2 separate regions of the Homo sapiens genome follow, and region 1 is linked to region 2. Evidence: fine-mapped expression QTL. Tissue or cell type: blood mononuclear cells. Region 2 holds a variant in brackets; the other region holds the start of a gene. All regions are shown on one strand. Distances are from middle to middle.

Region 1 (2,681 bases), 33 kb before region 2:
ACGACACCCAGAGGTGTGACCCCGTGGGAACCTGTTTGCCACCTGCCTGGTGGAGATGCTGTTCACATGGCCCCAGCCTCCCATGATGGGTCAGGTGCAGGGTGGTCAGATCCACGGGCGCAGAATCTCTGTTTTGAGCGGAGGCTGCTCTGCCCTGGCGCAGTGTCTAGCCCCGGCAACAGAGGACTGGGGAAGGACCTATGGAAGGCTGACTCAGGCCCTGACAGACGGAGGTCTCCAGGGAGGTACGACACCCATGCTGCCCTCAGGGCCAAGAGAGCAATGTCCCAGAGCCCATCAGGCTGGTGAGGGCACAGGGGGCAGGGGACAAATTGAGTAGCCCACTCCGCGCGGACTACCTTTCCAGGCACACACTCAGGCAGAGACCCAGACTCGGGACTTGCGGCTGCAAAACGGACGAGGCCCGGGCATACTTGGGTGCTGGGTCACCCTCCTAGGTGCTGGCTCCTGGCACCAGGGCAGCAAAGTGCTTCGGCCGGAGGGCTGCGGGTCCCTGAAGCCGGATGGGCAGCGGGGAGATGGCAGACCCTCCGTAGGATGGTGTGCGTGAGCTGCGTGAGCGCCTGGGGCATCTCCTCCACGGAATGGCACCCGCACCAGGTGCCCCTGGCCTCGCCTGGCCTTGCCAGCCAGAGGACCAGTCCTGGACGGGGAGGGGGAGGACAAGAGCAGGTGCACAGGCCCCAGAACCCGGCTCCCTGACCCTGGCCAGAACGCAGAGCTGCCGGACGCACCTCAGACCACTCCCTGGCCCTCTGGTGGGCACGCCGGGGTGCACACCCGTCGCCCCGCTGGCGCCTGCCTCCGGGGCACGTGCGGGAGGGGCAGAGGCCTGGACCAGGAACCGCTGTGGTGAGAGCCAAAGGCGCTGGGACCTGCGGCCCACAGACCTTTGGACACCCCGGTGGGGGTGGGGGTGGGCTGGCGCCTGTGTTCCCGGGACCCGCGGCGCGAGGGGAGTGGGGGTGGGGCTAGGGGATAGGAGCAGGTGACGTCACCCGGGGTCCTGGGGCGCTCGGGAAGGCGGCGAGAGCCAGGCCACGTGACCCGCCCGCGGCAACGGCCCTGCGCTCTCCCGGGCCGGCGACGCGGAGGGGTCCGCGCTGCACCGCCGCCGCACCCCGGCCGCGTGACCGCACTGCAGAGAGCGGCTGCGAGCAGGCGCCTGCGCACCGGCCCAAACGCCGAGCGAGCGAGGGAGAGGCACAGTCAGAGGGAACGCCCGCGCGGGGAGCCAGGGGCGCCCGACCCCGCCGCCGCCGCAGCGGCGCGCAGCCCCCGACGCGCCCTGTGGGGACCCGGACCAGGAGGGACCCTGCCCCGGGAAAAGGTATCAGACCCACCCGGGGAGGGGGACGCTGGGTCCCGGGAGACTCCGCCGCCCCTCGCCTGTCCGCCCTAACAGAACTGAAGCAGCCTGCGGGGCAGCGGTCCGGGGTCCGGGGTCCGGGGTCCGGGGTCCGGGGGCGGCGCGGGGATGAGGCCAAGACCCGCAGGGACCACCCCCCCGGGGGGGCGGGGCGGGACAGGGGCGGGGCCTGGCTGCAGAGGCGCGGCCAGGGGAGGAGGGCGGCTGGGGGTGGGAGTGGACGTGGACGTGGACGTGGGCGTGGGGAGGGGTGGGCATTAACCTCGCTCTCGCCCGCTCGCATTCACAGGCTGTGGAGACCTGGGCTCCGACCCCAGTTCATCCCCCCACACCCCCGCCGCCCCGTGCCACCCTGGTCCGCGCTGGGAACCCTATCCTGCCCCTCGTGTCAGCCCGGCACTGGCCAGAATCGCGGGCATGGCGGTGACCATGCTGCAGGACTGGTGCCGGTGGATGGGGGTCAACGCTCGCAGGGGCCTGCTCATCCTGGGCATCCCGGAGGACTGTGATGATGCCGAATTCCAAGAGTCCCTCGAGGCTGCCCTGAGGCCTATGGGACACTTTACAGTGCTAGGCAAAGCGTTTCGAGAGGAGGATAATGCCACCGCGGCCCTGGTCGAGCTCGACCGGGAAGTCAACTATGCTTTGGTCCCCAGGGAAATCCCCGGCACTGGGGGCCCGTGGAACGTGGTCTTTGTGCCCCGTTGCTCAGGCGAGGAGTTTCTCGGTCTCGGTCGCGTGTTCCACTTCCCGGAGCAAGAGGGGCAGATGGTGGAGAGCGTGGCCGGCGCCCTGGGTGTGGGGCTGCGCAGGGTGTGCTGGCTGCGATCCATCGGTCAGGCGGTCCAGCCCTGGGTGGAGGCCGTGAGGTGCCAGAGCCTGGGCGTGTTTTCCGGGAGGGACCAGCCAGCCCCAGGGGAGGAGTCCTTTGAGGTCTGGCTAGACCACACCACCGAAATGCTGCATGTGTGGCAGGGGGTCTCGGAAAGGGAGAGGAGGAGGAGGCTGCTGGAAGGCTTGCGTGGGACCGCCCTGCAGCTCGTGCACGCGCTCCTGGCGGAGAACCCCGCCAGGACGGCGCAGGACTGTCTGGCGGCCCTGGCCCAGGTGTTTGGAGACAACGAGTCCCAGGCGACCATCCGGGTGAAGTGTCTGACCGCTCAGCAGCAGTCAGGCGAGCGTCTCTCAGCTTTCGTGTTGCGGCTGGAAGTGCTGCTGCAGAAGGCCATGGAGAAGGAGGCCCTGGCCAGAGCATCCGCCGACCGCGTGCGCCTGAGGCAGATGCTCACCA
Region 2 (2,681 bases):
TAAAAGAATCTACACTGACTTGTCTGTGTTTCTTCCAGTTCATGAACATGGGATGCTGATATGGTTTGGCTGTGTCCCCACCCAAATCTCATCTTAAATTGTAGCTTCCATTTAAGTGTTGTGTTCCACTTATGTGCTGTGGGAGGAACCTGGTTGGGAGAAAATTGAATCATGGGGTCAGTTTTCCCCATTGTGTTCTCGTGGTAGTGAATAAGTCTCACGAGATCTGATGGTTTTATAAGGGGAAACCCCTTTCACTTGGATCTTTCATTCTTTCTTGCCTGCCACCGTGTAAGATGTGCCTTTCACCTTCTGCTGTGATTGTGAGGCCTCCCCACCTACATGGAACTGTGAGTCCATTAAACTTCTTCTTTATAAATTACCCAGTCTCAGGTATGTCTGTATTAACAGTGTGAAAATAGATGAAGACAGTAAATTGGTACTGGTAGAGTGGGGTGCTGCTGTAAAGATAACCAAAAATGTGGAAGTGACTTTGGAACTGGGTAACAGGCAGAGGTTGGAACAGTTTGGAGGGCTCAGAAGAAGACAGGGAAATGTGGGAAAGTTGGGAACTTCCTAGAGACTTGTTGAATGGCTTTGACCAAAATGCTGATAATGATATGGACAATGAAATCTGGGCTGGGGTGGTCTCAGATGGAGATGAGGAACTTGTTGGGAACTGGAGTAAAGGTAACTCTTGCTATATCTTAGCAAAGAGACTGGTGGCATTTTGCCCTACCCAAGAGATTTGTAGAACTTTGGACTTGAGGGAGATGATTTAGGGTATCTGCTGAAAGAAATTTCTAAGCAGCAAAGCATTCAAGGGGTGACTTGGGTGCTGTTAAAAGCATTCAGTTTTAAAAGGGAAACACAGCATAAAAGTTTGGAAAATTCGCAGCCTGATGATGCAATAGAAAAGAAAAACACATTTTCTGAGGAGAAGTTCAAGCTGGCTGCAGAAATTTGCATAAGTAACAAGGAGCCATATGTTAATCCCCAAGACAAGGGGGAATATGTCTCCAGTGCATGTCAGAGGTCTTCATGGAAGCCCCTCCCATCACTGGAGATAGTGAGGATGATAGGATGTGGATGGCAGTGCAAAGGAAAATGTTACAGATTACCCTACTGTTTCTAGCTTGGCACTTGGGTTGGAAGGTGCCACCAACAGAGACAGGGACTATGGGAGAAACCACATGGTGGAGGGATGAGTTGGTTTTCATCATGTTGGTGTTGAATTGTCATGGGGCTATTCAGGGAGTCTTTGGAACCATGAAACTGGAGCCCTCTTCTATGATCTTCTGAATATCAGTTTCTTGGCTATTCTATTTCTCTTTTTCCATGTTGCCACATGCCTCCTGCACCTGTTGTGATTCACAACAGAGGGTCATCTCTCTCAAGATAGAGAACTACAGGCTAGGCACAGTGGCTCATGCCTGTAATCCCAGCACTTTGGGAGGCCAAGGCAGGCGAATCATTTGAGGTCAGGGGTTAAGTGGCCCAGGGAGGCAAACTGCAATCTTGAAGAATCTCTCAGTAACTGGTTTCCTGGGCCACATAACCTTTCTAAGTCTCTCTCTCTCTCTCTCTC[G/C]ATTTGTAAAACAGGAACAATAATACTTACCTTATATGTAAGTGACATGCGGGCAGGTACTTAAAGTAAAGCAGTATATGAAACCTTCTAAGATATGAGGAAGCAAGAAATGACACTCGTGGTTAACAATATTCACTAGAGTTGTGTCTGTGTGTGCATGTGTGTGTGTGTGCACATGGTTAAAACGGTAAATCTTGTGTTATGTGTAGTTCACTACAATTAAAAAAAAAAAGACAAGGAAGTCAGTCACAAAGGTTCACATATAACAGGAAGCCATTTCTATGAAACGCCCAGAGAGGTAAATCCATAGAGACAGAAAGTGCATTTGTGGTTTCCAGGGGCTGGGAGGAGGAGTAAATGGGGCGTGACTGCTAATGGGAGGAGGAGTCTTTGTGAGGATGATGAAATTCTTTTTGGAACTGGGTAGAGATGGTGGTTGCACAACATTGCAAATGTACTTAATGACACTGAGCTGTACACTTTAGAGTGGTTAAAATAGTAAATGTAATGTGATGTCTATTTCACCACAGTGAAAGCAACCCCCACCCCCGCAGTGTGCTGCAGATGTGCACCTGCAGGCAGGTGGTGTTTTCGTTCCCCGTTGCTGCCGTAACAAATTATCACAAACCCGCTGCTTCAAGCAACACAGATCTATCGTCTTACAGTTCTGGAGGTCAGAAGTCTAAAATAGGAAGTTCTAGGGGAAGAACCCTTTTCCTTGCCTTTCCTGTCACCTTGAGGCTGCCTGAATTCCTTGGCTCTTGACTCCTTCCGTCTTCAAAGCCAGCAACATCCGGTTGAGTCCTTCTCTGGCGGCATCATTCTGACACTGACTCTTCTTCCTCCCTCTCCCTCACTTAAGGACCCTTGTCCTTCAAGTGTAAAGACCTGGCCAATCCAGGATAATCTCCCCACCCATCTCACATCTGCCCAATCGCTATTGTCATGTAAGGTAACATATGTGCAGCTCCCAGGGGTTAGGCCACGAACATCTTTGGGGGCTGTTACTGTGCCACCACAGGCAGTAACGAGCTGAGTCTTGTGCACCCTGCTCAAGGGCTGGGTCCTGCAGATGAGGTGAGGAGATACTTCT

Evidence for each region. PIP is the estimated chance that this variant, and not a neighbour inherited with it, causes the effect.
Region 1: PNMA6A starts here. The variant in region 2 is fine-mapped to the expression of PNMA6A in blood mononuclear cells (TOPMed, PIP above 0.99). The same link has a PIP of 0.9 or more in tibial artery.

Annotation. Positions count from the first base shown.
Region 1 is chrX:153,071,256-153,073,936 of GRCh38, forward strand. PNMA6A (PNMA family member 6A) reads left to right here and starts at 1,199. Exons shown (of 2, transcript NM_032882.6): 1 at 1,199-1,351; 2 at 1,680-2,681. The coding sequence starts at 1,808.
Region 2 is chrX:153,104,256-153,106,936 of GRCh38, forward strand. No RefSeq gene overlaps it. Among named protein-coding and RNA genes, the nearest start is that of PNMA6A, 33 kb to the left of the region's middle. The variant G/C (reference allele first, on the strand shown) is at 1,589.